Regions from separate parts of the Homo sapiens genome. Here regions 2, 3 and 4 are each reported to be linked to region 1. Evidence: microRNA targets listed by miRTarBase, many of them from high-throughput screens and not tested one by one. Region 1 holds a microRNA gene; each other region holds the end of a gene's coding sequence. Distances are between the middles of the regions.

Region 1 (7,158 bases):
GCCGCAGGAGCTTCACCGAGAGCCAGGGTGCTGGGACGAAGTAGTAGGTGTAGTCCTGGAGGTCGGTGGAGGCAGAGGAGACGATCTGGCGGGGAAGAGCAAGAAATAAGTTGGGGGCTGGGGTGGGAGGGGCACGTGGGTCCACATGCCAGGGTGGAGCAAATGGTGCCTTCCAAGGGCAGTGCTGTCAGTGTTAATGGTTTTGTTAGTGGGTTTTTTTTGTAGAGACAGGGTCTCACTATGTTGCCCAGGCTGGTCTCGAACTCATGGCCTCAAGCAATTCTCCCACCTCAGTCCCGCAATGTCCTGGGGTTACAGGCATGAGCCACCATGCCCGACCAATGCAATGGTTTTATGAAGCAGGAATCTGAGGCTCTGGGAAGGGAGCGAGGAAGCGTCAGGCACACTGAATGGGGGCAAAACTAGGACTAAGCCCGGCTGGTTGATCTTTCCAAGTAATGCTGGTGTGTGGTGGGCAGGAAAGGTCTCTGCTGGTTCCCTTCTGTGTGACAGTTTCCCAGGGCCCCCTCCTCACTCGGCTCTGAGCCTCCCATGCCCCAGGCTTCCTCCGTCAGAGCACACAGCGCACCGGCTCCTGGAGGCTGTTTCCTGTAGTCCCCCTACAAGGCTTGAAGCCACTCAGGGGCAGGGATTGGGTCTGACCCTTTTTTGGGTCCCTAGGCCTAATACAAGGTCAGATAGGAAGAGGTTCGGGGAAGAGGCAGGGAATTAGTGAAAGATTGAAAGATCATGGCCAGGTGCAGTGGCTCACGCCTGTAATCCCAGCACTTTGGGAGGCCAAGGTGGGTGGATCACCTGAGATCAGGAGTTCAAGACAAGCCTGACCAACATGGTGAAACCCCATCTCTACTAAAAATACAAAAATTAGCTGGGCGTGGTGGCACATGCCTGTGATCCATGCTACTTGGGAGGCTGAGGCAGGAGAATTGCTTGAACCCGGGAGGCAGAGGTTGCAGTGAGCCAAGATCACGCCATTGCACTCCAGCCTGGGCAATAAGAGCGAAACTCCATCTCAAAAAAAAAGAAAGATCATGTGACTTTTTTTCCTCATTGCAAACTCCTATTCAACCTTGAAAAGCCCTTCTCCAGGAAGCTCTGTCCCACCTCCGTGCTGGTCTGTGTTCCTACCTCACTGTCATCCTGGCACACTGCAGTACTCAGATGTGTGATGAATGAATGAAACAATGACTGAGGCTGAGTGCAGTGGCTCACACCTGTAATCCCAGCACTTTCGGAGGCTGAGGCGGGAGGATCACTTGAAGCCAGGAGTTTGAGACCAGTGTGGGCGACAAAGCAAGACCGATCTCTACAAAAAATACAAAAATTAGCCAGGCACCTGCAGTCCCAGCTACTCGGGAGGCTGAGGCGAGAGATCGCTTGAGCCTAGGAGCCAGAGGCTGCAGTGAACCATGGCTGCACTACTGCACTCCAGCCTGGGCGACAGCAAGACCCTGTCTCAAAAAAAAAAAAAACCTGAGAAAGAAACAATGAGTGGGCCAGGCGCAGTGGCTCACGCCGGTAATCCCAGCACTTTAGGAGGCCGAGGCGGGTGGATCACGAGGTCAGGAGATCGAGATCATCCTGGCTAACACGGTGAAACCCTGTCTCTACTAAAAATACAAAAAATTAGCCGGGCATAGTGGCAGGCGCCTGTAGTCCCAGCTACTCGGGAGGCTAAGGCTGGAGAATGGCGTGAACCTGGGAGCTTGCAGTGAGCCGAGATCGCGCCACTGCACTCCAGCCTGGGGACAGAACGAGACTCCGTCTCAAAAAAAAAAAAAAAAAAAAAAAAAAAGAAACAATGAGTGGATGCACGAGCTGGTGTGTTCTTCTCTTTGCCTGCGAATCCAGGCCTCTTCCTGACTGCCCAGGAGATGCGCATGTGTATTCTAAGTCTCAATTCTGGGATCGCCGCCCCCAGGAAGCCTTCGTGGACTCACAGGCTGTGTTAAGTGCCTCCTATGGGTGACCTATCCTACCTCCATTATAGCACGAGTCACCCCTTTTCTGACAATCTGTGACTGAGTCACCTCCCTGCCAGAAGGACAGGGAGCTCCTTAAGAGCAGAGCTTGGTTCTGACTCATCTGTGTCCCTGGTGTCACCCGACATGGAGCCTGGCATGCACAAGGCCTCAGGGGATGTTCCTGGGCAGGACAGGAGCAAAGGTGGGAGAGGGACGCCAGGCAGGAGTGAGAGGCTGCACAGGAAAGAGAGAGGCGGGAGGCAAAGCCAGAAGAGGGAAAGTGGGAGACAGAGAGAGAAGTGGGAGAGGGAGGAGGTCATGAGGGCGGCTGGCTCCCGGGGTGCTCGGCCCGCGAGGCCCTGTTCTGAGCACTCTATCCACAGCGCTCTGTGCCTCCAGGTGGGCACCGGTATTATCCCCACTGAACACAGGGGGCAGCTGAGGCCAGGGAGGTGAAGCCACTTGTCCAGGGCCACCCAGCCAGGAAGAGGCCGAGCCAGGATGAATCCAGCTCAGAGCCTGAGTTTGTAAACCTTGGGCTGGGCTGCCTCTCAGGGAGAGTGGGGGCCTGAGGGGTGTCAGAGGGCATAGGGATGCCAGGGCCACCTCCAGCAGCCAATATCTAGGCCACACCCACCCGGCTCAGGCGCGACACAGCCAGAGAGACGCACGTCTTGAAGTCATCTGGGTTCTTCTTGCAGAGACAGGTGATGAGGCTGACGGCGGCCGTGACCACACCCTGCAGGGGCAGAGGAGAGACAAGTCAGGCCCCTGGGGGAGGTGGTACCTGAGAGCAGAGGCTCAGGAGCGGGACAGGGTCGGGATGTGTGTGCAGTCGGGAAGATGGGGTTTAGGGGTGTGCACATGTGTCACTGTGCGTGCTTTAGGGGTGGGGTGAGGAGGCCACGGGGCCTCGGGCGCCATGGCCAGCACTGACCTGGGTGTGTGGGGTGTCCCTGGCAGGACCCCAGGCAGCTGGGTAAGGAGCAGTGAAGGGGCGAGACTCTAGAGGGTTGGGACTGTGGGGGTGGGACAGTCAAGGTTTCTGCGCTGGTGCGCAGGTGATGGGCGCTGTTGGGGGAATCTCCAGGTATTAGAAACAGAGTGGGATTTTCTAAGGGACTGGGTGGTTGGTGAGGGGTGTGGGGGTCACTGGACAGGATCCCTGGCCAGCCAGGGGAGTGTCAGAGATGGGGATGGGAGGGTTTCTGGACACTTGGGCAGGTAATGAGTACCGGGGACACTGGATCATGGTTTCTGGTGTCTGGTGAACGTCAGCGCCGAGGGGGAAGCTCCAGGAATCCAGGGGGATCAGGGCTGAGGTGGGAGCCCCAGGCATCCAGGGGGCGTGAGGGCTGAGGTGGGAGCCCTGGGTATCCGGGGGCGTGAGGGCTGAGGTGGGAGCCCTGGGTATCCGGGGGCGTGAGGGCTGAGGTGGGAGCCCTGGGCATCCAGGGGGCGTGAGGGCTGAGGTGGGAGCCCTGGGTATCCGGGGGCGTGAGGGCTGAGGTGGGAGCCCCGGGCATCCAGGGGGTGCGTGGGCTGAGGTGGGAGCCCTGGGTATCCGGGGGTGTGAGGGCTGAGGTGGGAGCCCCGGGCATCCAGGGGGGTCAGGGCTGAGGTGGGAGCCCTGGGTATCCGGGGGTGTGAGGGCTGGGGGCTCACCATGTGCTGGTCATTGAGCAGGTGTACCACACGCGCCGTCCACTCGCCCATGGGCACCAGGTCAGGCGAGGCCTTGTACAGTCGAAGGAGGCACAGGGCCGCACTCTGCTTGACACTGTCCATGCTGTCCCTGTGGGGACACCATGCAGGGCAGGGGAAGCAGAGTCAGTGACCCCAGCCCTGCACACCTCCCCTCCTCTCCTGTTCCTCCCAGGAAGGGTGTGCGAGGCCAGCGAGAGGGACAGACAGCCAGGCGGCCGCAGGATCCAGTCTGGCGCTGACCTCACGGCCCACCAGGACTCAGTGTCTTCATCTGCAAAATGATTGCATCTCAGTAACCTCACAGGGCTCAGGAACATGTCAAGCCTGGCTCTGCACCTTCATTCATTCACCAAGCACCTACTGGGTGCCCATGGGGTACCAGGCACTGCTGTTCACTCCATGGATAGAGTGGTGAATAAAGTGGTCCAAACACTTGTCCTCACAGGGCTTACATTTCAGACAGCACCACGAAAACACATACATCAAATACTGTCAGGGCTGGGCATGGTGGCTCACGCCTATAATCCCAGCACTTTGGGAGGTCGAGGTGGGAGGATCACTTGAGGCCATGAATTCAAGACCAGCCTGGGCGACAGTGAGACCCAGTCTCTTCAAAAATACAAAAATTAGCTGGGTGTGGTGGCGCAGGCTTGTAATCCCAGCTACTCGGGAGGGTGAGGTGGGAGGATTGCTCGAGACTGGGAGGTCGAGGCGGCAGTGCACCATGACTGTGCCACTGCACTCCCTCTAGCTTGGGCAACAGAGTTAGAGCTGTCTCTAAATAAATAAAAAAATTTAAAAATAAACAAAACAGAGTAACTTAAGGAGGAAAGACTGAAAATCCTCTGCAACAGAACATCCCAGGCAGAGGGAACAGCCTGTGCCAAGGCCATCAGGAAGGCGGAGCCCGTGTGTAGGAGGAGCAGCAAGGAGGCCTGCAGGCTGCGGCCTGAGCCATGGGGCAGGAGGGCTGCAGATAGGACAGGGAGGGAACAGAGAGCCAGACCCTGCAGGGCCTTGTTGGCTGAAGTGAGGACTTGGCTTTTTACCGATTGGGAGATGAAAGCCGCTGTGGGTGGTGAGCAGAGAATCAGCGTGATGTTAACACGACAGCAGGAACAGCTGCCCCCGGACCCCTTCGGCCTGTCCAGCACTCCCACAGGTCTCTGGGTGGATTCACACGTTTATCTTCTCTCCACAACAAACTGAGAAAATGGGTGTATTTTTGATCTGGCTTAGGTTTTTAAAGGGTCCCTCTGCCTGTTGTGAGGGAACAGACTTTGCAAGGCTCTTTTGAATCCAAGGGAATATATTCACAGGTTCTGGGGGTTAGGGTGGCTCACGCCTGTAATCCCAGCACTTTAGGAGGCTGAGGTGGGAGAATCACTTGAGCCCAAGAGTTGGAGACCAGCCTGGGCAACATGGTGAGACCCCCATCTCTACTAGAAATATGAGAATTAGCCAAGCGTGGTGGCGCATGCCTGTAGACCCACCTACTTGGCAGGCTGAGGTGGGAGGATCGCTTTAGCCTGGGAGGTGAAGGCTGCAGCCTGGGTGGCAGAGCAAGACCCTGTCTCCAAACAAAAAAAAGGGTGGGGGTACTTTGCAGATATGATAAAGTTAAGGATCATGAGATGGAGAGAGGATCCTGGGTGATCCAGGTGGACCCAATGTCATCACAGGGTCCTTATAAGGGAAAGATACAGTTCAGAGTCAGAGATGATGTGAGGATGGAACAGAGGTCAGGCAGGAGAGAAGATGCCACACTGCTGCCTTTGGGGATGGGGGAAGGGGCCACGAGCCAAGGAAAGCAGGTGGCCTCTAGGAGCTGGAGAAGGCAAGGACGCGGCCTCTCCTCTAGGGCCCCCGGAAGGGACGAGCCCTGCCCACGCCTTGATTTTAGCCCCGTGAGATGGATGTTGGACTTCCGACATCCAGAACCGGTGTTTGACACCGCTGTGCTGGTGGTAATTCATCACAGCAGTCACAGGAAACCAGGGTCAGCACTTGCCTGGCACAGAACCTGGCAGCCAGCGGGCAGCCCATCTCAGAGGGCTGACTCCAGGCCCCAACCATAACCCAGCTCCTAGCACAGCAAAGAGCATGGAGCATGATGTTGTTCTAGAAGAGGATCCCAGGGGAGCACCTTCTGGGGTCAGACACGCCTGCATGAGGTTGTGACTGTGGGGCACAGATGGGGGTAAGCCACTGACCCTCTCTGATGGGCTGTTTCCCCTTCAGGAAAATGAGGAGCCTTGTCGGCTTTGGGGAGAAAGAAATAAGATGGTGGGCCAGGCATGGTGGCTTACACCTGTAATCCCAACACTTTGGGAGGCTGAGGCAGGCGGATCACTTGAGGCCAGGTGTTTGAGACCGGCCTGGCCAGGCCAACGTGGTAAAACCCTGTCTCTACAAAAAAAAAAAAAAAAAAAGGCCAGGCGCAGTGGCTCACACCTATAATCCCAGCACTTTGGGATGCTGAGGCAGGTGGATCACCTGAGGTCAGGAGTTTGAGACCAGCCTGGCCAACATGGTGAAACCCCATCTCTACTAAAAATACAAAAATTAGCTGGGCATGGTGGCACGTGCCTGAAATCCTAGCTACTCGGGAGGCTGGGGCAGGAGAATCGCTTGAACCTGGGAGGCAGAGGTTGCAGTGAGCTGAGATCTCACCATTGCACTTCAACCTGGGAGACAGAGTGAGACTCCGTCTCAAAAAAAAACAGAAATGAGATTGTGTGGTGCATGGCCATAGCCTTGAGTAAGAGGAGGTGCTGGGAGCTGTCAAGACTGGCCCAGCCATGGCCTATCAGTAAAGGGTTTCCCAGAAAGCACCCAACAGACAGCAAAAGACACAGGGGAGAAGTCCTCAGAGGGGAGACCTGCACGAGTCAAAGGCCTGTGGCAGCATGTCTCACTGGATGTGCAGCCACCCAGCAGGTGGCTCCTGCCGTCATCCAGGCAGATACTCGCCCGACTGACGCCTGTTGCTACGGCCTCCTAAAGTGCTGGGAACCCTCGTGTGCTGCAGCTGGAGGCGGACACAGGGACAGGCCCTCTGGAGAGGCTCTGGGCTTCCTCTGTCTAGAAAGGCCACTGCTGTGTGTGCAGCAGACCAAGACCAGCAGTGCTGCCCCCAGACGCTCACCCTACAGAAACGTTCACTGCCCAGTGGTCATCAAGTTAGAACCAGAAACCAGCAAGAAGCCTGGCCACAGACGATGCTCCATTTGTGACGGCACTTTCCCACCTCCGTCACAGCGCACATCTCCCGAGCCCTGACTCCAGGCCACTTTCCCATCTCCGTCACGGCGCGCATCTCCCGAGCCCTGACTCTGGGCCACCTTCCCATCTCTGTCATGGCGCTCATCTCCCGAGCCACAGTGCATCTCCCGAGCCCTGACTCTGGGCCACTTTCCCATCGCTGCCACGGCGCACATCTCCTGAGCCACAGCGCATCTCCCGA
Region 2 (7,000 bases), not on the chromosome of region 1:
ACTGTATGTCGTATTTCCTCTTTGATGTGTGATTCATCGGGTGCATGTGTGCCTGCTAGCTCATTGTTCTAGTCGTTTCCAGCCATTGTGAAAAGGGTGATGGTCCTGTGATTATTCCCATTTCCCAGATGGGGCAAGGGAGACTCAGAGAGAGTGAAGCTGGGTTCTGGCCCAGGCGGCCTGACTGCAAAGCTGTCCACTTCCCCGCCCTGCCCTGCCATTTCTTTGCTAATGACGGCTACTGTCTATAGAGTGTTCATGGGGTGCCCACTCCCTATATTCTTAAATCCTCATGGCCCTCTAAGACGGCAGGCTGTTCCCCGGCTCGGAGGGGGTAAGCCTGGCACAGCCCTGAGCTCTCCCTCTGTCTCTGCCCGTCGACCCTGCAGGTTCACGTACGGCCACGCGGGCACCATCTACAAAGACTTCGTGTACATCTCGGGGGGCCACGACTACCAAATTGGCCCCTACCGCAAGAACCTGCTATGCTACGACCACCGGACAGACGTGTGGGAGGAGCGGCGGCCCATGACCACGGCGCGCGGCTGGCACAGCATGTGCAGCCTGGGTGACAGCATCTACTCCATCGGGGGCAGCGATGACAACATCGAGTCCATGGAGCGCTTCGACGTGCTGGGCGTGGAGGCCTACAGCCCGCAGTGCAACCAGTGGACCCGCGTGGCGCCGCTGCTGCACGCCAACAGCGAGTCGGGCGTGGCAGTGTGGGAGGGCCGCATCTACATCCTGGGCGGCTACAGCTGGGAGAACACTGCCTTCTCCAAGACCGTGCAGGTGTACGACCGCGAGGCCGACAAGTGGAGCAGGGGCGTCGACCTGCCCAAGGCCATCGCTGGCGGGTCCGCCTGTGTCTGCGCCCTGGAGCCACGGCCAGAGGACAAGAAGAAGAAAGGCAAAGGCAAGAGGCACCAGGACCGGGGCCAGTGACCCTAGCTGCGCCTCTTGGGACCATCCTCACCGTCACCTCCCAGGGCTCTGTAGACCAGCAGCAACTTCTTAGTATTCCGGAAACATTATGTACAACTTAGCAGCTTTTTTTACTTTTATGATTCTTGGTATTTCTATGATATCACAGTAACCAATTAAATACTATCTGTAACTTTACATATCTTGCTTGAATAACTAACCCTGGGCCCAGGCAGTGAGCAACCCCTTGTATCTTCACAGGTCTTTGCCCCGTGTTATGATTCCTCATGGGTCCTTGCTGACTGTCCCCCTGAGAGTAGCTGGCACGTGGGTAACACAGAAATTTCTGTAGTGAAGCTTGGGCCTCAAAGGGTTCTCTTAGGCCACCTAGTCCAAGCCTCCCCAAACCTGGCTGAACTTTTAAGAATACAGATGCGTGAGCCCCGCTCAGAATTATGGAATCCAAAACCACCAGGAACGGGGAGGAGGTGGTGCCCAGAAGCTGTATTTTAACTAGTTCTTGGAATTCTGGGTATTAGTCACATCTGGGAATCACTGGCAAGGTCCAGTGTGTTTGTTTTATAAATGAGTGCACAGAGACCACCCATGAGGGTGAGTGAGTGAGTGACCAGGGGCCACGCAGCTCGCTAGACTGTCAGATGAGACATGATGACTTCCCGCTGGGGAGCTGTTCTCCGTATCAGGTGAACGCTGTTTCTGAATAATTCCGTCTTTCCTCATTGGAAACCTTCTTGAATTCTAAAACGTTACAGGTAACCAAAAACGAAAAAAGGTATGAAGCTCTTTATACATATTTTTTTGTAATTTGTGCATTTTTTTCCTTTTTTTTTTTTCTGAACCCACTGTCTTTTATATTACTGATGTACTGAGCTCCCAAATCTGTTTATTTCTCAGGAAAGAAAAAGTGAGTGCTATGGAATTTGCCATCGTTCTCTGTGACTCTATCTTGAGGCGCTGTTGAAAGTTCCTGCACAGAGGAGCACATGTGGATCCCTGAGAAGGCAGTGGAGGGCTCCCTAACTCCCACGCCAGGTCCTGCCCCAGTTTTCTGCTTCTAAGTAGTTTCGTGCTGCTGGGCAAATTCTCGAACAAGTCCGTGTGTTCCCTCATCCACCCCGCTTAGCCACAGGATTAGATGGAATACCCTCCAGGCTCCTCCCGGGTGATAGGGCCATTCAGCCTCTGAGCTGTTCGTACCCGGATGGCATCCCCTTCAGGATGTGGAGCTGGCCTGCACTGACTCCTGCAAACAGTTCCTAAAGCAGGTGTCAGGGTCGCTTGCCCTTTAAGAGGGCTCTTAGCTGCCCGAGTGGATGAGAAACGTGCAGAACTATGGGAGGATAGGAGTGTGATGGGTTTTAAGCATGAGCCAAGGAAGGCATGAATGAGCTGTACCTCACCCAGCATCCGATGGCAGAGATCAGTAAACTTCAAGATGTGCTTCATCTTCAATCCTAGTCTAACACCAGTCTTCCTGCAGACAGTTCCGAGAGCAGGTCTCGATGTCACTTGCCCTTTAAGAGGGCTCTCAGCTGCTCGAGTGGATGAGGATCAATGTGTTAAGATTGATATTAGACTAGGAAAAAAATCTTAGTTAACTTTAATTTCCATTTCTTCTGCTTCTTTGCTGCCCCTCCTTTCCCTTCCCTTCAGGGTTTACTGTGGTTCTCACTGGTCTGTTTATGTAGCCATCCAGAAGAGATGAGAGCATTTTGGGGACTGAAAGCTTCAATAGCCAACTTACTGCCCTCTGTGGTTAGTGAGGAGGGCAGTCTGCATGTTCAGCTAGCTAGTTATTTGCATGTGAAGTCCCTGGAGGCTTACAAACTGTTGAGAGGTTCTGCGAGGCATACAAACAAACAGACCAAAAGGCTGGAAACTCTGCTTGGAGCTCTGCAGCATTCCGGTGTATGAAAGGTTCCGAGAAGTCTCAACCCAGCATTTCCAAACTTCTTTGAGCCTAAAAGTCGTTTGTCTCATACCTAGTCCCAGACCCCCACAAAACATGTTTTGCAGAACTTCTGCCAACTTTGGGATAGCTTACCCCCTTCCTATTCGGGAAAGGTTTTATTGCTTGTAGACCCCTCAGAAGGCAGGGTAGGGTGTACGTGGGCTGTTCTCCCCATCTCAGCCTGGGTCATGAACAAACGGGCAGTTGTTTGGCCTGAATCTCGGGGCAAGTTGGGGAGAGCACATAGAAAGACTCTGTGAGTGATTTGGGGAGTGGGATAGCTTTGACCTTGGAGAGAGGAGAGCCATTGGTTTTCAGCCTAAGCCAGCTCTTTTATGTTTTGCTTCTGGGACTTGTCCCTGGAAATGTGTGAGCTTCTGGCCTCTATTCTGATTTTCTTGTGCCTCATGAGTTACATACGACGTCCTGCGCTTCATATTTTGTGGTGTCTCTCCTGATACTATGAAGGTGGTTTGTAATTGACATGGCTTTGACCCTAATATTACTAAGGTTGGGACCACCCTTTTAAAGGGAGGATAAACAAGTTTCATCTTGTGGGTCAACTTCTAATATTTGATGGTGGCTACACTGTGACAAGAAAGGTTTTTGAGCTTGTTGGGGTCAGTGGATGGGCACAAGGGCACCCAGTGGTGGTGCCCGGGCCAGGTTTTTGTTACTTGTCTTTTTAAGTTGAAAATTCACCCTACTGTGCATGAAAATGGAACTGAAAATGGAAGAGACCATGCCTGGGCAACATGGCAAAACCCCATCTCTACAAAAAAATTACAAAAGATTAGCCAGGGATGGTGGGGCATGCAGTAGTCCCAGCTGCTTAGGAGGCTGAGGTGGGAGAATCACCTGAGCCTGGGAGGTTGAGGCTGCAGTGAGCTATGACCACACCACTGCACTCTAACCTGGGTGACGGAGTGAGACCCTGTCTCAAAAGAATAAAATGTTTTTTAACTCAGATGGGCAGAGTTTGGGCTGTGCTTATGCAGTGGCCATTTGAACCGCACAGTCACGAATGTGGGGTTTTAAACTAGAGTGATGAAGGCACAGGTGCTTGCAGGCTGCCATTTTGAGAGGGAAACAGCCACACATGTCATCATGTTAAACTTTCAGTGTTTCAAGCTATTCTGCTTGAATTTTGAAGACACCTGGATCTTTTTTTTTTTTTAACATTTCAAAATAAGCATGGCAGGCTTCTATTGAGGTTTGGACTTCTCTCATTTCTAAAGAATTAGAGTTGTAACTTCATATTAGTTGTAAGTTTGGGGTTTGGTCCTCACCCAAGTTGGAAAGCTGTTTGCTTAAGACATAGATGTATTATAATAATAGAAGGGAGGGAGTAGAAAGCTGATGAACCCTTGTTACTTATAGCAAACTTCCTGCTGTTTTAAATGCACAGAGATTATTTTATCAACTGTGGTTAGCACGCAATTGGTATTTTTATTGTTCTGCCATTTTATTGAGGCTATCAAGTGGGACTTCAGACCTGGCTCTGAGCAGGACCACACGTGTGTATTTATATTGAGTGCCCTCACTCATGATAAGGTGACTTCATGGAGACCCAGAAACTCACCCTAAGGGGTGTTCACCTTTGAGGTGGGCATCCAGATGCTGAGGGGAAGTGGGGTCCATCCTCTGAGGTCCAGGGGCCTACTTTGTGAGCTCAGTTGTGTTCACCTGTGGTTCAGTGTACCTCGGCCCCTAAGCCAAGTGATCGTTCAGTGACTTGCAGCAATGTGGGAAGTGAGGGGACCCCTGCCACACCCCCCACCACCCCCTGTAGAGTCACTGACCTTCATCCTTCACCCTGGTCCTCCATGGTGCAGCAGCATCTCATGGGCCTTGTGGCTGTCAGAGCCCGTGGTTGGAACCCCGTCCACTGGTCCCAAACCTGGAGGGGCAGCTGCAGATGAGGTTTAGACCTCCTGGTGTCTCCGTGGATTCTGAGTGCCCAGGAGGGGAGGGGAGGGGGTGGCATCCTGGCCTCTAGGATAAATGCCTGGAGTATAGGGCAGCGCCACGGGCACTTGGAGACCCTGTCCTGCGCATCTGCCAAGCCTGGCAGTTTTTAGAGTTTTTTGAAATGTTTTGATACTTTTTGATACAATTTGCTAATAACTGTTTTGTAGAATGCCTGCCGGGGTTTTCCACCTCATCCCTTTCCTCCGGCCCCTTGATTTGTGCTGGACAACAAATGGCAGCACCAGGACCTCGCCTCATGTGGCTTTGTCTTGGATCTTGCCCTTCTCCATCGCTGATGTGATACAGCTCTAGAATTTCGTGAAGTTGCATGCAAAGTTGCATGCAGCCCGTGGGTATGACTGTCTCAGGCCCCCAGCTCATTTGCCAAGAGGAAACCTTAACCCCCCTGAGAGGGTCTGCGTTTCTTCTAGAGCTCCTACCTCAGTGGTGTGCACAGAGTTGGAGACACCTGAGGGCTGGTCCACGTCTCACCTTTGCCATACGGGTCATTTCTTGATCAAATATATGACTGGGGTCCTGGTTTACTCCCGCCCACCCTTTCTTTTAAAGTATTCTTAACATGAAATCCACAAAAGCGGAAACAATGAACCATTCTTGCACTTTACAGAATCATTGTCCTTAGCTTTAGAGGTTGTTAATTTCTTGTTTTTAACATGAACAGAATGTGTGGTTCTGAAGGTGTGTGGGGGTCTCAAGAAATTGTCCTTTGGGGCCGGGCGCAGTGGCTCACGCCTGTACTCCCAGCACTCTGGGAGGCCAAGGGGGACGGATCACCTGAGGTCAAGAGTTTGAGACCACCCTGACCAACATGGTGAAACCCCGTCTCTACTAAAATACAAAAATTAGGCAGTCGTGGTCGCCTGTAATCTCAGCTCTTCCGGAGGCTGAGGCAGGAGAATCGCTTGAACCCAGGAGGCAGAGGTTGCAGTGAGCCGAGGTTGCGCCACTGCACTCCAGCCTGGGTGACCGAGTAAGACTGTCTCAAAAAAAAAAAAAAAAAAGAAAAGAAATTGTCCTTTGGTTGCCTTAGTTACCAGAGTTGAATGAATGTACACATTTCGGTAGTGGGGGGGCAGAGCGGATAACCCCTTCCTTGTCTGTTTCCTTTGAGAAAGGACACTCCACCTTTTCAAAGGTACTTAAAGCCATCTTTACAGATTGCTTGTAATGTAAGGAAAGAGTCATGTCCTTTGGATTGATTGAGGTTAAATCATCAACCACTAGCCCCCTTTCAAAATCAGCGAGATATTTGATGATTAAGTGATTCATTGGGTATGTTCTGGCTACTGATGTTACTGAAATCTGCAATCGTGTATGTTTTTTAATTTGTTGCTTTTGTATTTGTAATTTTATGACATTTCGAAGTTTCTGTGTCTTAACTCTTTTTAATTAATTTTCTGCACGTTGCTTTTTTCTCTTTGTTTTTAATTCCATACAGAGTATTCAATTCTTGAAACACATTAAAATAATTTGCTTGCTAGGGTATGGTTTATTTTATAATTACATTCCTAGTCTTGTGTGGTTATTGTAATGATGTCTGGTCCTAATTTCTCTGCCCGTATGAAAAAGAACCCCTTGCCTGTTGATCCTAAATATAATTTGGAAATTAACCAGACTTCCTTTTGGTGTTGTGGGGAGGCTGGGACATTTCAATTCTGCTTTCATTGTGTTTCTAATTACTGTATTTTGCCAGGAATTTCATTCAGTTCCTTGATTGCAGGGCTAAGTCCCCGTGACCTGAAATGAAACTATTTGCTTAAATGTGTGTCAACTGGGGTAATTTGATTAGAAAAGAAACACAGAAACCAAGGGAAACAGCTTATGACAAGCAGTGTGCTATCTTTATCAGAAAAAATGCAATCACAATACTCTAAGAACCAGCTCTGTTTTCCTTCGGGCGCTCCCCTGCCTTGCTGGGGTTTTGCAAGGCCACCAGCAGAGAAGCCCAGGCACGGTTGTGCACCCTTTCCTTGTCCCTTCGGCAGGTCAGCATCGGGAGGGTTGGGGAGGGGTGTCTGCGCAGCCATCATACCTGATAAGGTGGTTAGAATTTGCCTCTGAGCCAGTGAGCCCCAAACGGGACCCGCTGCCCGGTGCCGACTTCCTCACCTG
Region 3 (7,158 bases), 41 Mb from region 1:
AATCCATCTCAAAAAAGAAGAAGAAAAAGAAGAAGAAGAAGAACAAGGAGAAGGAGAAGGAGAAGAAGAGAAGAAAGAAGAAAGAAGTAGAATGTAATTTCACCTGGATACCAGGGTCATTGCCCAGAAACTAAAAGAGTCCGTCTAGGTATATTGAATTCAATCATGATGTTTATTAAGAACAAAGGATATCAGAATACTCAGCAATTCCAACTAGAGACATAACGAAGGAAGCGATATTCTTTGCAGGTCTAGATATTTGACCTTGCTGCCTTTTCCAACCCATGCTAAAGAATGGAACCGATAATAAGATCATGAGATTAGACTATTCTGCCATGCAGCTGCTGCAGGGCACTTTTAATGTCCCTTTTTCTCAGGCTGTAGATGAACGGGTTCAGCATGGGGGCGACCACTGTGTACATCACTGAAGCCACTGCACCCTTTCTGGGATAAGAGGACATGTCTGAACTGAGGTACCCTCCAAGGGCTGTTCCATAAAATAAGCAAACAACTGACAGGTGAGAGCCACAGGTGGAGAAGGCTTTATACTTCCCACCTGATGATGAAACCTTCAGAATGGAGGAAACAATTTTATAGTAAGAGAAAAGATCCCCGAGATGGGAAGAAAACCAAGTATGGCAGCAAGGAAATACATGACTATGTTGTTGGTGAAGGTGTCACAACAGGCAAGGTGGGGGAGTTGAGAAGGGTCACAGAAGAAACTGGGAATTTCCACATCCTTGAAGCAGGTAATTTGTAAGGCAATCCAATTGTGCAGCTGGAAGTCTAAAAGACTGAGAAAAAAAAGACAACAAAACCAGGAAGCCACAGAAACATGGGTTCATGATGACTGGATAATCCAGAGGGTGACAGATGGCCACAAACCGGTCATAAGCCATCACACTCAGAAGCATGTCTTCCATGCATCCAAAAACAGCAAAAAGAGATATCTGAGTCAGGCAGCCCGCATAGGAGATGACTCTGCTGTGAGACTGGATGTCCACAATCATCTTGGGGACAGTGGTGGAGGGGAAACCGATGTCAGCCAAGGACAGGTTGGAGAGGAAAAAGTACGTGGGGGTGTGGAGGTGGGAGTCAGAGCTGACGGCCAGGATGATGAGAAGGTTCCCCAGCACCATGACCAGGCACATGGACAGGAACAGCCCAAAGAGGATGGGCTGCAGTTCTTAATCTGTACACACCCTGTGTGTACATGCTGGGATATTATTCATAATATCTCTTCAATATTACTGCAAATAATATCTCTTTGATATTACTGCAAATAATATCTCTTTGATATTACTGCAAATATCAGAATGGGTGTACACCCTGTGATATAATTAATAATATCTCTTAGAAATTACTGCTAATATCACAGTGGGTGTACACCTAGGATATGATTCATAATATCTCTTTGATAATACTGCTAATATCACAATGGGTATACACCATGTGATATGATTCAAAATATCTCTTCGATTTTACTGCTAATATCACAGTGGGTGTACACCGTGTGATATGATTCATAACATCTCTTCGATATTACTGCTAATATAACACTGGTTGTACACCCTGTTATATGATTCATAATATCTCTTCAATATTAATGTTAATATCACAGTGGATGTACACCCTGTGACATGACTCATAATATCTCTTCGCTATTACTGCTAACAACACAGTAAGTGTACACATTGTGTGTACACTCTGTGATATGATTAGTAATATTTCTTAGATGCGGTGGCTCACGCCTGTAATCCCAGTGATGTTAGATGGAACATCCTCCTGTTTCCTGGATATTACAACTACCTAAGGCAAATGTGAATTTAAATATTCTGGCTCTTTTTTTCTCTCTCTAAAAGACATGCCTCTGTTTCCCATTCCTAAAGCACCTATAAAATTGCTTTATATGTTTTTGTATATTTCTATTCAACAACTCCTTCAGTGATTAATTACTTTTATAGTTTTCTTCTCTGTACATGGTCATCAAATCTCTGTCTTTGATCAGTTTACTTTCAGCTGTTCTTGAGATTTCTAAAGCATCATTTAAATCATTTTCATGTCATGCACTGACATGGCTTCCTCAAAAATTATCCATTTGAATGTCGTGGTTCTTTACTTTGTTGTGTTCTTGTTATCTCTGTGATAGTGACAGGAGACAGCCAAATACCCAGGCAGATGGGGTGGGTCCCCGGTAAAACCCCACCTTCAAGCCAAAAACAGTCTATAGGCTGAAAGACTGGACTACTCGTCCTGGATGAAACCTGCGACCCAGAGTGAAAACTTCTGTTCTTGTTTACTTGCCCTTTCCCAACAGATTTTTTTTTTTTTGAAAAATGCCTTTTAGCCAATCGAATGTTGCCTTTTTGAATAATACCTATGGTCTGTCCCTCCCCCATTCTGAGCCCATAACAGCCCCAGACTCAGCCATATTGATAAAGGAGATAGAAAGAAATTATTTAGGCAGAGAGTGAGGGTAAAAGAGTCCTTGGAGGAATTTCCCTAACAAAAAGCAACCCCCAAATCATTTCTTTTCTGACAAAGAGAAGCCTGAAAAATCAAGCTGCAGACATAGATAAGCAACTGCAAGCTTGCATGGGTGAATCCTAGCAGCTGCGCCAATAGGAAAGGGCTACTTGAAAGCCAGACACGTTCAGCATAGAGTCTCCATCTTTCCTTTTCTTTGTCAGCCCATGTGCAGTAAAGACACAGGCAACATGGCGCCGGCCAGATAGAGAATCCATCTGCATAATAAAAGATTAGGGTGGGGTGTTAAGTGTTAACAGCTCAGTGGGCCCTTTGCCTTTTTGCATGAAGTGGCTGCCCTCCACCAGCGAGGGCAAAGGGCCAGTATGACAGGCTTTTGTAACCGCACTTGTGGCTCCTGAGCACTTTTCCAGCATCTAGGAAAAATAAGGTTGCATGAACGAATTGAAGGATGTTAAATGCAGGAGGGATCTTATGTCTGATCAAAGTGGCTCTCAGGTAAGGGAAGCTGGAAAAGGGATGGGGCAGGCAGGTAATGAAGTCCAGTCGTCTCCTGCCAAATTCTTCTCTGAAGTTATACCATCGAGCTGTCCTTCTGAGGTCAAAGCTGCTTCTCTCTAATGTCCAGCCATAGTTTCATCTACTGGCTGAGTCTGGGGTTTTTATAGGCATAGCATGGGGTTGGGCAGGGTCAGGGGTGGTTTAGGAAAAGGTGATATCCAAGCGAGAAAACAGGGATATAAGTTCTCACTTTGGGCTGCAGTTTCAGGCTTTTTGGCTTGAGGGTGGGGTTTTGCCTGGGAACTGCCCTTTTCTGCCTAGAATTTCTCCACCCTCTGTCCCTATCACCCTCAAGGCCCCACGCTTCCTGGGGTAATAGGGCCTGGTTATTTCTACACAATGTGAGAATTCTCCAAAGAGCAGCCCTAGCTTTAGAGCTCCCCATAGAGTTGGCAGAAACTTTCTCAGATCTGCATAAACATCTCTTATGGACTAAATTGCACCCCCCAAAATTAATATAGTGAAGTCCTCACCCCCAATATGATGACTGTCTTTAGATACAGGGTCCTCAGGGAGGTAATTAAAGTTTACTGAAATCATAAGGGTCAGGCCCTGATCTAATAGGACTGATATTCTTAGAAGAAGAAGAGACACCAGAGAGATATAACCAGCTATATTTAAATACGTATTTTAATCATACTTCATCCAGTAGGAAAACAAATAAACACTGTTGATCTGTTCATGATCGAACACACAAACAACAAAAACCCACATGCAAACACATAGAAATAAAGTCAGTGAACAATCAATAGCTTAAGAACTCTGTGCCACCACTTGAGATAACAAAGCTATAGCAAATGCTTCAAACCCAAGTTCAGAACTCACTAATGGAGAATTAAGAACGATGATCAAGGACACAATTTTTGAATAGCACATAGGACAGAAGTGCCATCAAGGAAATTACTTGGAGATTAATTGTTAACTTACACCCCCATGTTTATCACGGCACTATTCACATTAGCAAAGATATGGAATCAACCTACGTGTCCATCAATGGAGGACTGGACTTTTTTTAAAGTGGTATCTTAAAGAACTAGAAGGCCAGGCACAGTGGCTCACACCTGTAATCCCAGCACTTTGGGAGGCCGAGGTGGGCGTATCACCTGAGGTCAGGAGTTCAAGACCAGCCTGGCCAACATGGTGAAACCCTGTCTCTACTAAAAATAGAAGAATTAGCTGGGTGGGGTGGCAGGTGCCTGTAGTCCCAGCTACTCAGGAGGTTGAGGCAGGAGAATCGCTTGAACCTGGGAGGTGGAGGTTGCAGTGAGATGAGATCGCGCCACTGCACTCCAGCCTGGGCAACAGAGTGAGACTCTGTCTTAAAAAAAAAACAAAAAAAAGAACTAAAAGTAGAACTACCTTTCAGTCCAGCAGTTCCACTACTGGGTATCTACCCAAAGGAAACAAAGTCATTATGTGAAAAAGACACATACACCTGCATGTTTATAGCAACATAATTAGCAATTACAAAGGCATGGAACCAACCTAAGTGCCCATCAACCAATGAGTGATAAAGATTGTGGTATATGTACAGCATGGAATACTACTTATCCATAAAAAGGAACCAAATAATGTCTTTTGTAGCAACTTGGATGGAACTGGAGGTCATTACTCTAGGTGAAGTAACTCAGGAATGAAAAACCTGGACTTGTTTGTATGTTCAACCAACATACATAAGATCCATATGAACATATCGTATGTTCTCAGTTATAAGTGGGAGCTAAGCTATGAGGACACAAAGGGATATGAACAATATAATGAACTTTGGTGACTTGAAGGGAGAAAGGTTGGGAGGGGGGTGAGGAATAAGAGACTACTACCACTTGGGTGACGGGTACACTAAAAACTCAGAAGTCACCACTAAAGAACTCATCCGTGTAATGAAAAACCACATGTACCCCAAAAACTACTGACATAAAAATAAATTTTTTTAAAAAAAGAAAACATGGTATGTATCTACATATGTCTATATCTATATAGATATCGAGGATATATACAATGGAGTACTACTCAGCCATAAAAAAGGATGAAATCATGTCTTTTGCAGCAACATCGATGGGACTGGAAGCCATTCTCTTAAGTAAGGTAGTAAAGAAACAAAGTCAAATGCTGCATGATCTCACTTATAATTGGGAGCTAAACAATGTATACGCATGGGCATTATAACAGAATAATGGACACTGGAGACTGCAAAAGGTGAGAGGGGAGTGAGAGTTTAAAAACTGCCTTGGCCGGGCGTGGTGGCTCACACCTGTAATCCCAGCACTTTGAGAGGCCAAGGCAGGTGGATCACAAGGTCAGGAGTTCGAGACCAGCCTGGCCAAGATGGTGAAACCCCGTCTCTACTAAAAGGCATGGGTGGCACACACCTGTAATCTCAGCTACTCAGGAGGCTGAGACAGAAGAATCACTTGAACCCGGGAGGCGGAGGTTGCAGTGAGCCGAGATCACTCCACTGCACTCCAGCCTGGGAGACAGAGTGAGACTCCGTCTCAAAAAAGAAAAAAAAGTGCCTTATGTTCACTATTCAGGTAATTGGTACGCCAAAAGCTCAGACTTCACCCTTATGCAAATGCATGTTAAGAAATCTGCATTTGTACTCTCAAAGTATAAAAAAATGTTTTTAATTTTAAAGAGTAAGAATTTCAAAATAAAACATTTTTGCCATTGGTGCTCACAAAACTTCTTAGTCCTGGGGCCAAGGGATCCATCACAAACAAGAGGCTGCCCTGCTGAGGAGACTCCCCAGGGCTCCCTTCACATCCTTGTTCCTCAGGCTGTAGATGAAGGGGTTCAACATGGGGGTGACCACAGTGTACATCACCGAGGCCACGGAGATTTTCTGGGAAGAGTGAGTCACCGCAGAAGTGAAGTGGACCCCAATGCCTGTCCCATAAAATAAAGAAACGACGGAGAGGTGAGACCCACAGGTGGAAAGTGCTTTTTGTTTTCCCCCAGATGAGGACATCTTCCTTATGGATGAAGCAATTCGTGAATAAGAGAAAATGATCCCAAGGAGGGGAAAAACGCCCAGCACACCCGTCATAAAGTATATCAACGTGCTGTTCAGGAAGGTATCAGAGCAGGCCAGCTGGAGGATGTACGTCAGTTCGCAGAAAAAATGTGGAATTTCAAAATCTTTACAGAAGATTAGATGCATCATCAGAGAAATATGGAGGAGGGATGTCATGACACCAATGAGCCAGGTGACAAAAACCAGGAGGCCACAGAGGTGGGGGTTCATGATGATCATATAGTGCAGAGGGTGGCAGACAGCCACAAACCGGTCATAGGCCATCACGGTCAGGAGTAGCGTGTCCAGAATAGGAAAAAACATGGAGAAATAGACCTGTGTGAGGCAGTCCATGTAGGAGATGGCTTTGTTCTCGGTCTGGATGTTCACCAGCATCTTGGGGACGATGCAAGTGCTGAAACAGATGTCAACCCAGGACAGGTTGGAGAGGAAGAAGTACATGGGGGTGTGGAGGTGGGAGTCAGAGCTGATGGCCAGGATGATGAGCAGGTTTCCCAGCACCGTCACCAGGTACATGGACAGGAACAGCCCAAATATGAACGGCTGTAGTTCTGGATCCTCAGAGAGTCCGAGAAGGATAAACTCTAAAAATCCTGTTTGGTTTCCTGCTTCCATGTAGCTGATGTATCTACAAAAGAAGAGGTCATTAGCCAGGCATGGTGGTGGACACCTGTAGTCCCAGCTACTCGGGAGGCTGAGATGGAAGGATCACTTGAGCCCAGGAATTTGCAACTGCAGGGAGCTATGTTTACACCACTGCACTCCAGCCTGGGCAATAGAGGGAGAACTGTCTCAAAAAATAAAAATAAAAAATAAAATAAAAATAAAACTATGTATATATGTATTTATTTTAAAATATACATATTTATTTAAAATTATATTTATTTATTTATTTAAAAGGAAGCGGTAAGAGAAACATCAGTTAACATCCAACGGGCATCCTTCATGTAATAGAAATGTTGTCCATACTATTTACTTGTGATTTATGGACTCATTTTGTCTAATCTTTCATACGTAAATGGAATTCTAAAAAATGAAGTCTCTCATCTCAACCACCCATATATTTAATTATTTAA
Region 4 (7,158 bases), not on the chromosome of region 1:
ATCAGTATCTAGAATCCAATCACTTCCCAGTGCCCCTGCTGTTAGCGGCCTGGCCAAGCCACTGCCATCCACTGTCCAGGGACTCCATCAGCCCTGCTTCCCGCCTCATCTCCACACCAGCTGGCTCACCAGGTCACTTTAAGAATAAAGCCGGGCTGGGTGTGGTGGCTCACGCCTGTAATTCGAACACTTTGGGAGGCCGAGGCGGGTGGATCACCTGAGGTTAGGCATTTGAGACCAGCCTGGCCAACCTGGTGAAACCCTGTCTCTACTAAAAATACAAAAATTAGCTGGGCTTGGTAGCGGGTGCCTGTAATCCCAGCTACTCAGGAGGCTGAGGCACGAGAATCACTTGAACCTGGGAGGTGGGGGTTGCAGTGAGCCAAGATCACGCCACTGCACTCCAGCCTGGGCAACATAGCGAGACTCCGTCTAAAAAAAAAAAAAAAAAAAAAAAAAAGAATAAAGCCAAGGTCCCTACCATGGCCTAAAAGCCCTCCAGGGCCAGGTCCCACCCCTCTCACTCCCTCAGCTCCAGCCAGTCTCTGTCTTACTCTTCACTCAGCCCAGAGCACTCTCCCCACCTGCATCTGATCCCGCTGGTTCACTTCCTCAAACGATACCCTCTCAAGGAGACCTACCCTACTTGCTGCAACATGCCCGCCACCACCCAGAATCCCCTGCTCCCTGCAAGTTCCCAAACTCTTGTCACCTTTTAACGTCCTTCCTTAAGCTTATCCTGTCTCCCTCACTAGAGTGCAGGCTCCTCCAGCAGGACACAGCCCCTAACCACTGCTTTCCTAACTCCTGCAGGGTGCCTAGCACACAGCAGGCACTTTCTTCAGGTGTGCCAGGGTCCAGCTACAGCTGTATGGTTCCCCAGAGGCAGCTGGGGCTGTGGGATTCCCTCACCCCTGGCTGGCAGCTGTGGCAGTGTGTTGTGTTCCGGAACTCAGTCGAGCTTGAGTCTCCACCCTCCTGATTGTGGCAGAGGGTGTAGCTCCCTCACCATCTGTTCTAGGGGGTGCTGATTCCTGGATGCTTAACCTATGGCTCACTCCTCCAGCCTTCCAACGAGTCTATAAACTTCTCTTCTTGTATTAACTCTTTCTGAATACCTAGAATGGTTTCTACTTGTCCAGTGAAACCTCATGCACGCCCTGGAAAACACACAAGATAAAGTCTCCAGGCCAACAGTGATCAAGACTGCATTTTTCTTTTTCTTTCATGTAAGCTTTCTATTTTTTTTTTTTTTTTTCTGAGATGGAGTTTCACTCTTGTTGCCCAGGCTGGAGTGCAATGGCGTGATCTTGGCTCACCGCAACCTCCGCCTCCCAGGTTCAAGCAATTCTCCTGCCTCAGCCTCCCAAGTAGCTGGGATTACAGGCATGCACCACCACGCCCAGCTAATTTTGTATTTTTACTAGAGACGGGGTTTCTCCATGTTGAGGCTGGTCTCGAACTCCTGACCTCAGGTGATCCGCCCACCTTGGCCTCCCAAAGTGCTGGGATTACAGGTGTGAGCCACTGCGCCTGGCCCATGTAAGCTTTCTTAAGATGTAAAGACTGCATTTTTTTTCTGACTATATCTTAAATGTAGATGAGCCAAGTAACAAAGTCCAACTTCTGACTCAGTTTTTGGGAAGACAGATCAGTGGTTACCCCAATGGAAGGGAACAGAAGAAATGCTTTAGAAGAGCTGAGGCAGAAAGTGGCCATGCAGAGGGCTCCTAGAACTGGTGTCCCATCACCATCTCTGTTTTTTCAGATGACACCCCTAAGACCTGAGCCCCTTCTGGGCCCCACACTCCACCTGTAGAACTCTGATGGGGCCTTGTGCGGCCGAACCACAATCCAAGAGAGGTGTTCACATCATGTGTCGCTAGCCACAGCCATCTCAAGGGGAAATGCCCCAAATGTAGAAGTATCTGACACCAGGACTGGGGGTTGGAGCACTGGATGAACAGCGTGTGTGCCACTCTTTCACTGTGCACCGTCCTAAGAAAGAAGCCTGTTTCCCTTTGAAGAGCCTAGTGCTGACTGCCCAATTCAATCGGACCACGCAGGGCAGTCTGAGGATTAAAAGATGCTACCTTTAATTCCTTCGGCTAATTCAGAAGTATGTGAAACACAACATACTCATTAACATGGAAGAACTGGATGTGTGTGCATGTGGGTGTGTATTATTTATTTTTCAGAGACAAGGTTTCACCATGTTGCCCAGGCTGGTCTTGAACTCCTGGGCTCAAGTGATCCTCCCACCTCAGCTCCAGAGTAGCTGGGAACGAAGAATTGTATGTATTTCTGAGTGAGATAGAGTACACGATAAAACCACATAATTTATATCATTATAAATAACATACAAAATTTTGGAGGCTGAAATAATATACATGAGCAGTCATAAAATACAATGAAATCATGTGCTTTGCAGCCACATGGATGGAGCTTGAGGTAATTATCCTAACCTCGGAAACAGAAAATCAAATAGCACATGTTCTCACTTATAAGTGGGAGCTAAATAATGGGTACCTATGGACATAAAGATGGAAATAGCAAACACTGGGCACTCCAAAAGGGGGTGAGTGGGAGGGGGGGCAAGGGTTGAAATGCTACCTGAGTACAATGTTCACTATTTGGGTGATAGGTATGACAGAAGCCCAATCCCCACCAGTACGCAATATACACAAACACGCACATGTGGCTGGGCGCAGTGGCTCACGCCTGTAATCCCAGCACTTGGGAGGCTGAGGCAGGTAGATCACTTGAGGTGAGGAGTTTGAGACCAGCCTGGCCAACATGGTGAAACTCCCGTCTCTACTAAAAATACAAAAATTAGCCAGGTGTGGTGGCATGTGCCTGTAATCCCAGCTATCTGGGGGGCTGAGGCGGGAGGATCACTTGAACCTGGGAGACAGAGTTGCAGTAAGCCAAGATCACACCACTGGGCGACAGAGTGAGACTCCATCTCAAAAAACAAAACAGAACAAAACAAAACAAAACAAAACTAACATGCTCATGTACCTGCTGAATCTAAAATAAAATAATATACACTAAAATGTTAAAATTGATTTTAGTAGAATAAAAGGTGACTGAATATTTTAAAAAGTTATGCCTAGATGAATACTTTATGATTTTACATTGCAGCATTTTTTGAACATGGCAGCAGCTACTATGAATTGTCTATCCAACTGCCACTCCAGCTTCCTCCCTACTAACAAAACCCCAGCTCAAGGGCAAGTGTGCTCAGTGCCAGGGGATACACTAGTCGACCCATCCCCCTTTGCCAGGGCCTGGTCCAAGAGTGGGCACGTGGCCCCACTCTATAAAGAGACAGGGGGGAGGTTGCTGGAGCTGCTGACGGTTATTCCCGGATAAGGGCAGAATGAGAAGGCTCCTGTACTACTGTCCACTCTGGCTGTGGACACCATCATTTGCAGAATGATGCTTGGCGCAGGAGCAGCCATTCTGCAATACTGAGGATGGCAAAGCAGACGGTTCCAAGGAAATCCTGATGACATTTTGGCTTCCACCCAACTCTAGAACCATCTATTTACAGACTTTTTGCTATGTGAGATAAACATTCCCATTGCTTAAGCCACCGTCAGGCTAATTTTCTGTTACTTGTGCTGATCACATCCTGTTATAGGCAGTTATCTGTCTGGCACCGAATAAATGCCTCATGTTCACTCTAATTTAAAAGCAACCCTATTAAGCTACTACTGTCTCACTCTTACATAAAATAAAATAAATAAAATCAAGCTTAAAGAGGATAAGTGATTTTTTCCAACCAAAGTTACTGGTGGAGTCAGATTCAAACCCAACCGTGACTCGACAGCCTGGACTCTGCCACTTAAACATGTAGTTAGAAAAGTGTGCAAGCCTATTGTTCCTTCTTTCTGTATTTAACAGAAAGCATATACACAGATGCAGGGAGCAACAAATTTGCATCCACTTGCACTCATGTATAAATTTGGCTTTGGGCTCTTCTCCTCTGTCATCTGTCCATATTCCTTGGTAGAAATGCATGCCTCAGGGGCCTGACCAAGAAGGTGGACTCTCCTCTCTTTTCCCACACTTATTAATAAGACCTAATTTGTGCATCAGGGATCTGAGACAGGTTGTGAGGACTTTGATACGGAGTCATAAGGTTCAAGCCAAGACATCTGAATGGGCGAAATGAACGTGAAAGCAGTACATGTTCTTCCTCAAACTTTCTTGGAAGGGTCAGAAAACAGAAGATTGAAAAATACCCAATATCTAACATCGGGCCATTGAGTTCGTCCAAAAAAAGCAGAAGAGTATTTCTGAACCAAAGAAACAGAATAGAAAGAGAGGATGAGAATGGAGACCTGCTGGCCGTGCATCAGCTATTTAAAGGAAGAAAGGGCTGGAGCCCAGAGTTAACCAAAGCTTAGCCTTAGACCAAACAGGGCTTCCCAGCACAGGTTTCCAAGGAACCCTTTCTGCTCCAGTCCTCTACAGTGAGAAGAGCCCAGAATAACACTGTCCAATGGAGCTGACATGAGCTTCAGCACCAGAAAGGGTGATATGGTCACCAAATATTCAGTCAGCCTCACAGCTGCTGGCTGGGCAGGTTGAGGGCTTTGTAGGAGAAGCCCAGCCTTGACAAATGAGTAACAGGCTTGAGGAACTTTGAAAAGAAGGAAGGTGAGCCTGAAGGAAGATGTACCCAAAATCTAAGGGGCCACTAGGAATCAGGGATGGGGGTGGAGGGGAAGCGGTTCTTCCTGAGCCCCTATGGTTCATACTGTCCCAGAGGCCAGGTGCCACGACGCCAGCAAAGGGAAGTTGTGCCATCAGCGTCTAACAGCCACACACGCTGCCGCATGAGACCTTTTTCTAACCTGCAAACGTCTCCCCAGCTGAACCAGGGAAAACCCCAGCCCTACTGTCAAGACAAGAGGAGAAGCTGTTCCTCCAGGGACAACACAGTACAATGACCTGGTAAAGGGAACAGGATCACAGACCCAAAAAAGTAACACTGAGTAGGTGGCTCTGGCAGTGCTAGGACAGGAGACGGGCAGGCCTCTGAAACCCAAAGTTTTTGAAGTGGGCATCATCGGCCAAGTGTCAAAGAGGCCATTATTCAATACATCCCTAACTTCTCTTATGAAGGATTTAGTTTTTTTGTTAGCAATATATGACTTCGGCTCATACATGAGTACTAACTGCAAAGGAAAGAGTGCAGGGAACATGTCCTGGGCCCAACATGTCCCCCAAAGGCTTTTGTAGGGTGCTGGGAGGGGTCTCTGACTTCTTCCTTTCTATTACCTGCAGCTATTACAGTAACTCACACAGGAGGCACCTGGCTAACAGGAGCCAGGAGAAAAAGGCATAGAACAATCTGACACCATAAATTTAGGGCATCAGGCCCAGGGTGAGGACGGGATATAAAGCAGGAAGGGGCAAGAGTGGGGACGGGAGCAGCTCTAGTCGCTGCTTCTGGGAGATTTAGAATCTCTATTTTGTTTGAAAATAGACTCAGGTAGAGAAAAAGGACATGAACGTTTATTGAGTGCCTGCTGGTTCTGGCCTTGTGCAGTTTTCATCTATAATAGCCCATGAATCCTCACGCCAACCCTGGAGGTAGGTATCATCCCCATTTGTGTCGGATGAGGTATAGGAGGCTCAGAAAGGTTAGGTAGTTTGTCCAAGGACACAGAACCAGGAACTGGCAAGCTGGGACCGAGTGCTTAAGTCTCAGACTCAATCCTTGCTCTCTCTCCTATACTGCCTCCAGGAGGACGGGGGGAGCACCAGCAGAAGCTGCAGTCCACACGCTTCCTGCCCCTGCAACCCAGCAGGCACCAAGAGAAGCCGGCCCCTTCACACAGACCCTCCCCATCTACCCTTGGAGGATGCATCAGTGGAAGAGATTAAGACATAAATACAAAAATAAATAGCAGGGCCAAGTCCCCAGCAGCAAGGATGTGCCATCTCCACGCTGCAGGAAGGTCACTGTGCCATTCACAGCTGCTGTGGGAGGAAGCCCTGGGGGACCTGGAACAATGGTTGCCAAAGGCTGGAGTGAGTGGGCTCAGTGGGCCCCTTCTGGGTCTCACAGATTCAAGAACAAAATGTCTGGAGCAGGCAGCAGCCGTGGGCACAGGCGCCGTCCTCCTCCACCTGCTCATTTTACCGGTGTTTGTGATCCAAGAGGGATTCAAAATCAGGGGAACATACAAGTTTGTGCTTCACGTGTCCCAGGACTGTCATCTCCCCTGTCCTACTGTCTCCAAGGCCCACGGACACCAGCTCCTGCCAATTAACAGAGACAGTGATGAGAACCACCACCACGTGCCCGGCGTGTAGAGCTGTGAATGGGGACATGATACTCCCAGAAACCCCCTCCCTTATTTAGCAGTGGCTCTTCAATCCTCCTTCACTCCTGAAAGGGTCCCTCCTTGCCCCTAAGGAGGCTCTTACCTGCAGGAAGGAGCAGGCAGTTCCCATGGTCACGTCCAGAGTCACCTTGCCCAAGAGGAGTTGCACCCTTCCAGACTTGCGGATGAGTAGCTTGCCAACCTGACCCTCTGTCAGGTCAGCCAGGGTACAAGCATTCTCTGCCAATTTGGCTTCCTGCGGAGAAAACCAGAGGATGGACACTGGGCTAGGAGCTCTTTCCTCCATCTTTCATGAACCCCCTTCTACTCCCCAAGAGAAAGGCACAGCAAAGGTCAAAATGAGCTCCCCAAAGAGTGCCTTCTCCTAGGGCTGTCTGCTATGGTTAAAATACAAAACCCACAGCAAACAAATACATACACGGACAAAATATCAGTTACTGCTGAAGCTGAGTTCTGGTACATGGCGGTTTACGTTCTCTTATTTTTTTGAGACAAGGTCTGACTCTGTCGCCAAGGTTGGGGTATAGTGGCATGATCTAGGCTTACTGCAACCTCTGCCTCCTGGACTCAAGCCATTCCCCCGCCTCAGCCTCCCAAGTAGCGGGGACTACAGGCACACGCCACCATGCCTGGCTAATTTTTGTATTAGCCATGGTGTCACCACGTTGCCCAGGCTAGTCTCGAACTCCTGGGCTCAAGTGATCCTCCTGTCTCAGCCTCCCAAAGCGCTGGGATTAGAGGCATGAGCCACCGCATCTGGCCATATGTTCTCTCATTTGTGTTTGAAATATTT

Evidence for each region. The annotated mature microRNA hsa-miR-6799-5p reads GGGGAGGUGUGCAGGGCUGG and lies in region 1 at 3,825-3,844, opposite strand. An mRNA with a match to its seed (bases 2 to 7 or 8) in the 3' UTR can be bound and repressed. Matches are read on the target gene's strand: a 7mer-m8 pairs with bases 2 to 8, a 7mer-A1 pairs with bases 2 to 7 and ends in A, and an 8mer does both.
Region 2: the mRNA of KLHL36 is a reported target of hsa-miR-6799-5p. Seed matches in the 3' UTR shown: 8mer at 981-988.
Region 3: miRTarBase lists OR7D2 as a target of hsa-miR-6799-5p. Seed matches in the 3' UTR shown: 7mer-A1 at 4,837-4,843, 8mer at 4,294-4,301 and 7mer-A1 at 4,127-4,133.
Region 4: the mRNA of POLR3D is a reported target of hsa-miR-6799-5p. Seed matches in the 3' UTR shown: 7mer-A1 at 6,001-6,007, 7mer-A1 at 5,259-5,265, 7mer-m8 at 3,337-3,343, 7mer-A1 at 2,738-2,744 and 7mer-A1 at 2,584-2,590.

Annotation. Positions count from the first base shown.
Region 1 is chr19:49,788,557-49,795,714 of GRCh38, reverse strand. It overlaps MIR6799 (microRNA 6799), which reads right to left and starts at 3,849; the gene lies at 3,781-3,849. AP2A1 (adaptor related protein complex 2 subunit alpha 1) reads right to left here. Exons shown (of 23, transcript NM_130787.3): 5 at 3,651-3,780; 6 at 2,623-2,724; 7 at 1-85.
Region 2 is chr16:84,661,189-84,668,188 of GRCh38, forward strand. KLHL36 (kelch like family member 36) reads left to right here. Exons shown (of 5, transcript NM_024731.4): 5 at 390-6,498. The coding sequence ends at 945. Among named protein-coding and RNA genes, the nearest start is that of KLHL36, 16 kb to the left of the region's middle. RefSeq lists an enhancer at 2,417-2,636 and a silencer at 2,727-2,776.
Region 3 is chr19:9,185,321-9,192,478 of GRCh38, reverse strand. OR7D2 (olfactory receptor family 7 subfamily D member 2) reads right to left here. Exons shown (of 3, transcript NM_175883.4): 3 at 3,661-6,710. The coding sequence starts at 6,697. The coding sequence ends at 5,759. It also overlaps the pseudogene OR7E16P. Among named protein-coding and RNA genes, the nearest start is that of OR7D2, 9.9 kb to the right of the region's middle. RefSeq lists an enhancer at 2,512-3,034.
Region 4 is chr8:22,249,517-22,256,674 of GRCh38, reverse strand. It overlaps POLR3D (RNA polymerase III subunit D), which reads right to left. Exons shown (of 9, transcript NM_001722.3): 8 at 6,448-6,600; 9 at 2,074-6,279. The coding sequence ends at 6,157. It overlaps PIWIL2-DT (PIWIL2 divergent transcript), which reads left to right. Exons shown (of 2, transcript NR_134293.1): 2 at 1,769-2,099. Among named protein-coding and RNA genes, the nearest start is that of POLR3D, 8.0 kb to the right of the region's middle.